3 separate regions of the Homo sapiens genome follow, and regions 1 and 2 are each reported to be linked to region 3. Evidence: microRNA targets listed by miRTarBase, many of them from high-throughput screens and not tested one by one. Region 3 holds a microRNA gene; each other region holds the end of a gene's coding sequence.

Region 1 (3,000 bases), not on the chromosome of region 3:
AAGCGCTGCTCACCAGGACTTTCCTCTCCGCAACATGCAGGGCAGCCAGCAATGAGCCCGTGCCCTTTGGGCGGGAGGAATGTGTTCATCTGAGATGCTGGTGATCATCTTGGCACTTGGTAGAAATGTGGGGATGGGGTCAGAGGGTGGGGTCTGGTTTTCTGAGTGCCTTGGGGGCTACAGAAAGTGCTGGAGCTGGGAGTAATTCTAATTGGGCTCTTAAGGTGGGGCGGGAAACTAGATAAAAAGAAAACTTCTATCGTCTTCCAGAGCCTCTGAGGGTAAGACTGTGGAAGTTCCTTACAAAGGAGATGTGGAAAACACTATCCTGGATATTCTCGGGGGACTGAGGTCCACGTGCACCTACGTGGGGGCCGCCAAACTCAAGGAGCTCAGCAGGAGGGCAACATTCATCCGGGTGACCCAGCAGCACAACACCGTGTTCAGCTAACCCTGGGGACAAAGCAGCGTCTGGCTCGAGTGGAAGCGTCCAAACCTGCTTTTCCCATCTCCCCCCAAGTCTGTTCCGTCAGAGCTTCTGGCTGCTCCTGAATGGTGGAATGCTGTGTCCTCTCTTCTGTCTCCTGCTGCCTGGAGGCTTCGGGGCTCTCCCGCCTGCCTTCTCGGGGCCCAGACGCAAGGCACCGATTGGGCCAACATCAGAGCCCTGCTGCCCAGAACTCATAACCTCATTGTTCAAACCAACACTTGCACCTTTCTCTTTTTCTCTTTCTCTCTCCCTTTCTTTGTTTTTCTTTCTTTTTTAAAAGAAGATGGTTTCACTTTAATATAATGCTATTATCTTAAGACTTAATGGAGTTGCTGGAGTTTGTATTTCCAGGAGTCAAGTTGAATGGTTTGGGATTTGTTTTGCTACCTTCCTAGACAGGCTGATGGCAAGCCTCTCCCGGCGATTAGCAGACAAGTCACCTTAGGAGGGGCAAGGAGAGGAGGACAGTGCGGGGGCCAAGGGTGGACAGGCCGGAGTCAAAGTAACTGGCATCCCTCACCTCTAGCTTTTGGTTGCTGCAAAAGAACAAAAGCAATTAACTGGACAGATGAACATGAATTGTTTTCCCAGCTGATACTCACAAAGTTGAGCCAATGTGTTTTCCCCGAGTTTCATTACATGTGCTTTTCAGGGACAAGTCATCTGTCGCTACCAGTTTGCTGTTGCCTCTAGGAAGCTGTCCCTGTCCTGGCTTCTCATTTCGTTTTGTTTTCCTCCATCTTTTTTTTCCCCCTTCTCAGTCCCAACTTGTCTTAATTTGAAATTCCACAGGATGTTTTATGGGAAGGTTGTCTCCCAAGAAATTAGCAGGTGGAGTCACACTGAAAAAGAGCCAAAGCTTTGATCAGTGGCATCCTAAAAGGCATTGGTTTGAGACATGAGTTAGAGCCATTCCCTCAGTGTGCCAGTGAATCCTTTCTCGGAAGGACCACATGGCACTACTGTATAAGGGTCAGTTAACGGGTTGGGAACAATGACATTGTCTTGGAGAATTGGCCTCTGCAGCTGACCTGCAGCAGTCCACCAGGATGCTTGTTTAAACAGTGAACGCAGAAGAAGTGATGACCGGCCGCTAAACTTTGAAGTATTGAGTTCCAGGCCTGGAAAGCGTATGCAGATCAGGTTGTTTTACTTTGCTTTTTAATAAGGCTGAAGAGCAGATACACAAGTCAGTTTTCTTTGGAAAGGCAAGCAATGACCCTGGAGTAGAGAAGATCCACAGGGTGCTGCTGTGCCAGGGTGAATGAATGGCCTGATTGTCCACAGTGACCGATGGCATGAGAAGGGTCCAACCAGAGCTGTCACACTCTGGGATAATACAGGCCCACTGTTGGTCCTTTAAGATTATGTTTAGAGATCCAGCCAGCAGCATTGTCTCCATTGTAATACTTTCCCCTACTAAATCCATTAAGAGTTTTTTTTTTTTTTTTTTTTTTTTTTTTTTAATTTGAGACAGGGTCTCTGTTGCCCAGGCTGGAGTGCAGTGGCAGGATCACAGCTCACCACAGCCTTGACCTCCCGGGCTCAGGTGATCCTCTGACCTCAGTCTCCCAAGTAGCTGGGACTACAGACACCTGCTACCACGCCCAGCTAATTTTTGTATTTTTTATAGAGACAGGGTCTCACCATGTTGCCCAGACTGGTCTCAAACTCCAGGGCTCAAGCCATCCACCTGCGTCAACCTCCCCAAAGTGCTAGGATTACAGGTGTGAGCCACTGTGCCCGGCCCATTAAGAATAACTCTTGCACCTGTAGAAACACAAGGGCTGCACTTTGGAGACGGGAGGGCCAAGAGGCGATTTAACGTGGAGCAAGACATGGGGCTTGGCTGCAGGCTCCCCGCCTTGCTCTCTGTGGTCTTCCAGCTGCTTGTAACTGAGTAGTTACAAAATCAAAAACTCGTTAGGACCATTTTGAAGCAGAGCCTTCAGAAAGAGAATGTCTTTTTTTTTTTTTTTTTTCCTGAGACCAAGTCTTGCTCTGTCACCCAGGCAGAGTGCAGTGGCACAATCTCGGCTCACTGCAACCTCCGCCTCCCAGGTTCAAGTGATTCTCGTGCCTCAGCCTTCAGAGTAGCCGGGATTACAGGTGCCCGCCACGTCTGGCTAATGTTTATGTTTTTAGTAGAGATGGGTTTTTGCCATGTTACCCAGGCTGGTCTCAAACTCCTGGGCTCGGGTGATCCACCCACCTCAGCCTCCCAAAGTGCTGGGATTACAGGTGTGAGCCACCGCGCCTGGCCCATAAAGAGAACTTGTAAGGCTCCGTCACCGTTTGCCTTAGCAGGTTCATCTCTGCCTCTGATAGGAGTGGGGCTGGGGGAGCCCACACCAGAGTGTCCCTTGGACCGGGTGTCCCACAGGACCTGGAGATGAAGCATGCAGCTTTGCTGCTGACCCACTGGGCTTCCTGTGCCAGAGCTGGGGGAGGAGGAGGACAGCCAGTGAACTCGACGCCATTTGCCTTGGGCCACTCTGGCCGTTCCATCT
Region 2 (3,342 bases), not on the chromosome of region 3:
GCTGGAGCAAGTACTTCGTGCCGCCGCAGCTCTTCCCCGGGTCCGCTTACCCGGTGTACTGCAGCGGCGGCGGCTTCCTCCTGTCCGGCCCCACGGCCCGGGCCCTGCGCGCGGCCGCCCGCCACACCCCGCTCTTCCCCATCGACGACGCCTACATGGGCATGTGTCTGGAGCGCGCCGGCCTGGCGCCCAGCGGCCACGAGGGCATCCGACCCTTCGGCGTGCAGCTGCCTGGCGCACAGCAGTCCTCCTTCGACCCCTGCATGTACCGCGAGTTGCTGCTAGTGCACCGCTTCGCGCCCTACGAGATGCTGCTCATGTGGAAGGCGCTGCACAGCCCCGCGCTCAGCTGTGACCGGGGACACCGGGTCTCCTGAGGCCAGTTGGGCGGCTTCAGCCCCGGGCCTCCAACCATGTCCATGCTGAGAAGGCAGCTTTCCCGCTCTGGGTACCTTACGTCCTGCCCAGCTCTGTGCACCTGAACCCCAGCTGCGCACTGAAATCAGCTGGGGTGGGGGGTGTGGAAAATGCCTACATCCTGGCTCCATCTCCCGAAGTTTCGATTTGATTAGTCTGGGGTGGACCCAGACATGTTAAGTATTTTTTAAGTTCCTCCAGTGATGCGAATGTGCAGCTAGGCCTGAGGACCACTCGGCTAGACTATCTCTTCATCCTCGCAAAGCCAGCTCCACCGCCCTCTCTGCAAGAATTCCGGGCCCCTCGCTCCCACACTCGGGTCCTCTTGAGCAGTGGAGCAAGGGAGACCTGGGAGCGTGGGAGCCAGGATCAGCGCCCCCTGCCATGTGCCTACAAATGTCAGTTGTGATTTCCACTGTTTACAAGTGAGTGGAGCTGGAGCTGGGCTGACAGTATCAGGTGGATCCCGCTTCCCCCTCCCCCAAGAAGTCAGCCAACACGCAGCTGAGGCGCATGTGGTGGCCTTCTTCCCACCACTACCCCAGTACACCGTGAGGTAGAAATCTTCACCGTGCAAAGTGGAAACCAGAGGCCCGGTCAGACAGTGACTAATCCAGGGCCGTGGCATTCCCAGACAGCACACCACTGTGGTCCCCTCCACACTCACCCCAACCAAAGCTAATGGCCTAGTTGGGTCCTGCCCGCCAATAATCACCCCCACGGGTCAGAGACAGGCTCCTTGCCGGGGTCTGGGCCTCAGGCTCAGTGGGCCTTGGACAACCCAGCAGGGAGTTCCGGGGAGTCCGAAGTGGAGAAAGGCTGGTGGGAACATGGAGGCCAGTGTTGGGGAGCCTGTGGAGGCAGGTGTGTAGAATTGTGTTCGGGAGGTGGGGGATCTGAGACCGAAGTGGACAGTGGTTAAGATTGTGGGGCCGGGCGAGGTGGCTCACGCCTGTAATCCCAGCACTTTGGGAGGCTGAGGAGGTCGGATCATGAGGTCAAGAGTTCGAGACCAGCCTGGCCAATATGGTGAAACCCCGTCTCTATTGGGAGTACAAAAATTAGCCGGCCATAGTGGCTCGTGCCTGTAATCTCAGCTATTTGGGAGGCTGAGGCAGGAGAATCACTTGAACCTGGGAGGCGGAGGTTGCAGTGAGCCGAGATCGTGCCACTGCACTCCAGCCTGGGCGACAGAGCAAGACTGCATCTCAAAAAAAAAAAAAAAAAGGAGAGTTTGCAAGGGTGGGTGGGAACTTGGTGCCTGGGGCTCTGAGAACCAGGCTGTGGTCCTGACCTCCAGCAGCTGCCAGTCATCTTGGCAACATAGAAAATCAAGGAAACGGCCTAAAGGCAGGCAGAAGTGTGTGTCAGCAAGGTCCCAACTATGTAAGATGGACACGAGGGACTCACCTTCAGGGAGGAAAGAGCCGGGGCAGAACGTCAGGAGACTGGCCAAAGGTCCTTCCCTGCCTTCAGGACGAAGACTAGACTCCTCAGTCCTGCATTTCAGGCTCCTGCCACCCGCCTGCTGCTCACTGATCCCTCCCTCCCACTGTCAGCCTCCATCCAGGTGGCAGTGCCTGCGCTTTGTCAGGCTCTCTCTTGTCTCTGCATTTTGCACAAGCTCTGACCTAGTTACCGAAATGTCCTCCAACCACCTCCATCCTGCATGTCTCTTGCACCAGTTAGGACGCCTGTCGGGGAAGCTGCCAGCTGCCCACCTGAGTCGGCTGTTCCCTTCCTCCTGGGCACTCACCTAGACTCCATTTCCCAGCACTCCGTCCCCTGAAGTTAGATGTGGCCCTGTGACTAGGCCCTCATGGATGGACGGGAGTGGATGAGGATCACTGTGGCACCTGGGCCTGCTTATGCTCTCTTCCTCCTTCCCATTCGCTGGAACATGGATGGGCCTGGGACCCAGCTCTGACTTTGCAAGTGAGGACAATGCTTCAGGCCCAAGTGGAAGTTTCTCAACTACTGACATTTGGGGCAGGACGGTTCTTTGTTGTGGGGGGCAGTCCCGTGCATTGTAAAACATTCAGCAGCATCCATGTCCTCCACTCACTAGATACCAGTATCACAGCCCAAGTCATGACACCCAAAGTATCTCCAGACGTTGCCAAACATACCCTGGTGGGAAAATTCACCCTAGCAGAGAACCGCTGGCCTAGAGGAAGGCAGAGAAACGAGGATTCCTGAGTTCCTGCACGGAGCAGAGCAGCCCGGGGACCAACCTGGAATACTCAGTTCAGACTACTGAGGAAGACAAAATAAACTTTTATGCTTTTAAAAAAAATTATGGACAGAACAATATAGACAAAAACTTTTATGATTTTTCAGCTTCTGGGGTTTGTCTACTGTTACAGCAGCCTTGCCCTGCTAGTGTTTTAGTCTGTTCAGGCTGCTGTAACAAAAATACCATAAACTGGGTGTCTTACAAACATTTCTGAAAGTTCTGGAGGCTGGGAAGTCTAAGGTCAAGGTCCCAGCAGGTTTGGTGTCTGGCGAGGGCCCATTCCTCACTGCCTTCTTGCTGTGTCACTGCATGGTGGGAGGGGCAAGCAAGCTCCCACGGCCTCTTTTACAGCGGCCCAGATTCCATTGGTGAGGGTTCTGCCATCATCACATCATCACCACGTCACCTTCAGGGCTAGGATTTCAACGTAAGAATTCCGGGGGGCCGGGTGTGGTGACTCACGCCTGTAATCCCAGCACTTTGGGAGGCTGAGGCGGGCAGATCACGAGGTCAGGAGATAGAGACCATCCTGGCTAACACAGTGAAACCCCGTCTCTACTAAAAATACAAAAAAATTAACCGGGCATGGTGGCAGGCACCTGTAGTCCCAGCTACTCGGGAGGCTGAGGCAGGAGAATGGCGTGAACCTGGGAGGCGGAGCTTCCAGTGAGCCAAGATCACGCCACTGC
Region 3 (3,342 bases):
CCCTAGTAGCTGGGACTACAGGCATGCGCCACCACACCCAGCTAATTTTTGAATTTTGTTTTAGTAGAGACAGGGCTTCACCATGTTGGCCAGGATGGTCTCGATCTCTTGACCTCGTGATCTGCCCCCCTCGGCCTCCCATAGTGCTGGGATTACAGGCGTGAGCCACTGTGCCCGGCCCTCTTGGTCTTGTAGAAGTGTCTCAGTTGGATTCAGTCATGGGCTGAGCTAAACACCAAGTTTGGGGAAGTTTAATTACTGTCACTTGAAACCCTAACCTCAGCCTGTTCACCTACAACGCCCCCTTTCTTTTTTCACTTTCAGAGGCAGTAGAGCTAGTCATCTCCCATGTCGCGTGAATGGAGGCGATCTCTCAAATTCTTTTCACTTGGGCAACCCTGTCTCCTTTCTCACCCCAGGTGGCTAAAGCAGTGACCCAGGCTCTGAACCGCTGTGTCAGCTGCCTACCTGGCCAGCGCGATGTGGATAATGCCCTGAGGGCAGTTGGAGATGCCAGCAAGCGACTCCTGAGTGACTCGGTAGGAGGACGGTAGGGGGTGGGGGAACGTAGGAGTCAAAGAATGCCAGGCCTCTCCTTCCTCCCTCTCGGTTGTCCTTTGACCCTGACTTCCCAGATCTGTCCCCTTTCATTACTCCCAGGCTATGTGCCCACCTTTTCAGCCCTCCTTTACCAGACTTCTCCCTGCATCATTCCCCACTCTTCTGTCTGACTTCCCCTCTCACCTTGCAGCTTCCTCCTAGCACTGGGACATTTCAAGAAGCTCAGAGCCGGTTGAATGAAGCTGCTGCTGGGCTGAATCAGGCAGCCACAGAACTGGTGCAGGCCTCTCGGGGAACCCCTCAGGACCTGGCTCGAGCCTCAGGCCGATTTGGACAGGACTTCAGCACCTTCCTGGAAGCTGGTGTGGAGATGGCAGGCCAGGCTCCGGTATGAAGAGGCAGAGGGTCTGGTTGAATGGTTCCCACTAAGGGTTAGATAGGAGGCAGTTGAGTGACCAGTCCTGACTTGCTCCTGGCTCCCTTCCCTCCCCAGTCTCTAGCACTACTTGAGTGTCTGGGAAAGAAGATCCCTTTTAGAGACAGATAAGAAAGGACAGGACAATGCATTGACCTTGTCACCTTCAACAGAGCCAGGAGGACCGAGCCCAAGTTGTGTCCAACTTGAAGGGCATCTCCATGTCTTCAAGCAAACTTCTTCTGGCTGCCAAGGCCCTGTCCACGGACCCTGCTGCCCCTAACCTCAAGAGTCAGCTGGCTGCAGCTGCCAGGTAAGTAGTTGCTGAGAAGCCCAGCCCTGGACTGTGTGAGAGAGACTGGGGAGCAGGCAGTTCATGAGAGCTTCTTGGCTTAGGAATGGTTATAGGCAAAAGATAAATACTTACATAGGACCCAGGAATGATGACCTATTCACCTTTTCACTCAACTTTCTGTCACTCCCAGGGCAGTAACTGACAGCATCAATCAGCTCATCACTATGTGCACCCAGCAGGCACCCGGCCAGAAGGAGTGTGATAACGCCCTGCGGGAATTGGAGGTAGACACATGGCAGGCTGATGGCATTGAGGTTGAGGGAAGTGTTCTGGTTTTGGGCCTGAGGGAGGTGTCTTGGATCTCACTTTGCCCTCCCCCTACACAGACGGTCCGGGAACTCCTGGAGAACCCAGTCCAGCCCATCAATGACATGTCCTACTTTGGTTGCCTGGACAGTGTAATGGAGAACTCAAAGGTCAGCACAGCCAGGAACTCGGAGGAGAGAGGGCAGTAGGATGGAGCTAACCAGATGCTGCCCTGGGGTTCTGAGGACATGCTCTGACTCCCCTGATGTCCTCTGTTCCTCAGGTGCTGGGCGAGGCCATGACTGGCATCTCCCAAAATGCCAAGAACGGAAACCTGCCAGAGTTTGGAGATGCCATTTCCACAGCCTCAAAGGCACTTTGTGGCTTCACCGAGGCAGCTGCACAGGTTATTTTCCTGAGATGGGTTCTTTGAATGGCCCCTACTTTCTTTACCCCATTTTCTCTCAGCCTGACATACCTGTAGATAAATCAAGAAGTTTATGTTTGCAAAGCCAACTCTATGGAATCTGGGTTGTCCTCCTCCTGAAGTGGAGACACTTGTCAGCAATTACTGAACACCAGCAGTTCTGATTTCTGTAATTCCTGAACCCTGGTACTTTGGTTAGGATTACACTGCCCAACCGTGAGGCCTTTTCCAGCTGGCTTTCTCAAAATATACTAATTAGCTTATACAAACTATTTTTTCATGTTATTACTACTTTCTTTTTTTTTTTTTTTTTTTTTGAGACAGCGTTTCGCTCTGTCGCCCAGGCTGAAGTGCAATGGCGTGATCTAGGCTCACTGCAAGCTCCGCCTCCCGGGTTCACGCTAGTCTCCTGCCTCAGCCTTCCAAGTAGCTGGGACTACAGGCGCTCACCACCACACCCGGCTAATTTTTTGTATTTTTTTTTTTTTTTTTAGTAAAGACAGGGTTTCACCATGTTAGCCAGGATGGTCTCGATATCCTGACTCGTGATCCACCTGCCTCGGCCTCCCAAAGTGCTGGAATTACAGGCGTGAGCCACCGCGCCTGGCCTGTAATCACTACTTTCTTTTTTTTTTTTTTTTTTTTTTTTTTTTGAGACCGAGTTTCGCTCTGTCGCCCAGGCTGGAGTGCAGTGGCGCGATCTAGACTCACTGCAAGCTCCGCCTCCCGGGTTCACGCCATTCTCCTGCCTCAGCCTCCCGTGTAGCTGGGACTACAGGCGCGCGCCACCATGCCCGGCTAATTTTTGTATTTTTAGTAGAGACGGGGTTTCACCGTGTTAGCCAGGATGGTCTCGATCTCCTGACCTCGTGATCCGCCCGTCTCGACCTCCCAAAGTGCTGGGATTACAGGCGTGAGCCACCGCGCCCGGCCAATCACTACTTTCTTAAAATAGTACTAGTGACAAAATTTCCAGTTACTTGAGTTATCACTTAACTTTGCCTTTTCCCACATTATCAAGTATAAAACTACCTATTAGCTGTAAAGTATTTTGCTTTAGTATATGAATCCTTAAAACAAACTGGCATCATAAGAGTTCACTTCAGACTATTTTCCCTGAAAGCCTACCATCCTAGCCCTCCATCTCCACCACCTCCCTGTGCCCTGTCAGAATAGGCGCCTTGCTCTAGATGGCTTGTTTGATTTTGTTTTTTTGTTTTTTTGGTTTTTTGTTTGTTTGTTTTTTGAGACGGAGTCTCGCTCTGTCGCCAGGCTGGAGTGCAGAGGCATAATCTCGGCTCACTGCAACCTCCGCCTCCCGGGTTCAAGTGATTCTCC

The links. Region 3 holds the annotated microRNA hsa-miR-6852-3p (UGUCCUCUGUUCCUCAG, at 1,844-1,860, shown strand). A microRNA usually pairs through its seed, bases 2 to 8, with sites in the 3' UTR of a target mRNA and lowers its output. Matches are read on the target gene's strand: a 7mer-m8 pairs with bases 2 to 8, a 7mer-A1 pairs with bases 2 to 7 and ends in A, and an 8mer does both.
Region 1: the mRNA of GMPR is a reported target of hsa-miR-6852-3p. The part of its 3' UTR that is shown has no 7-base or 8-base seed match.
Region 2: the mRNA of B3GNT6 is a reported target of hsa-miR-6852-3p. The part of its 3' UTR that is shown has no 7-base or 8-base seed match.

What each region holds. Positions count from the first base shown.
Region 1 is chr6:16,294,736-16,297,735 of GRCh38, forward strand. GMPR (guanosine monophosphate reductase) reads left to right here. Exons shown (of 9, transcript NM_006877.4): 9 at 271-814. The coding sequence ends at 451. Among named protein-coding and RNA genes, the nearest start is that of GMPR, 58 kb to the left of the region's middle.
Region 2 is chr11:77,040,330-77,043,671 of GRCh38, forward strand. It overlaps B3GNT6 (UDP-GlcNAc:betaGal beta-1,3-N-acetylglucosaminyltransferase 6), which reads left to right. Exons shown (of 2, transcript NM_138706.5): 2 at 1-1,644. The coding sequence ends at 377. Among named protein-coding and RNA genes, the nearest start is that of ACER3-AS1, 6.3 kb to the left of the region's middle.
Region 3 is chr9:35,709,202-35,712,543 of GRCh38, reverse strand. MIR6852 (microRNA 6852) reads left to right here and starts at 1,803; the gene lies at 1,803-1,868. It overlaps TLN1 (talin 1), which reads left to right. Exons shown (of 57, transcript NM_006289.4): 28 at 420-539; 29 at 752-949; 30 at 1,150-1,289; 31 at 1,462-1,555; 32 at 1,658-1,747; 33 at 1,861-1,983. RefSeq lists enhancers at 423-472, 564-1,763.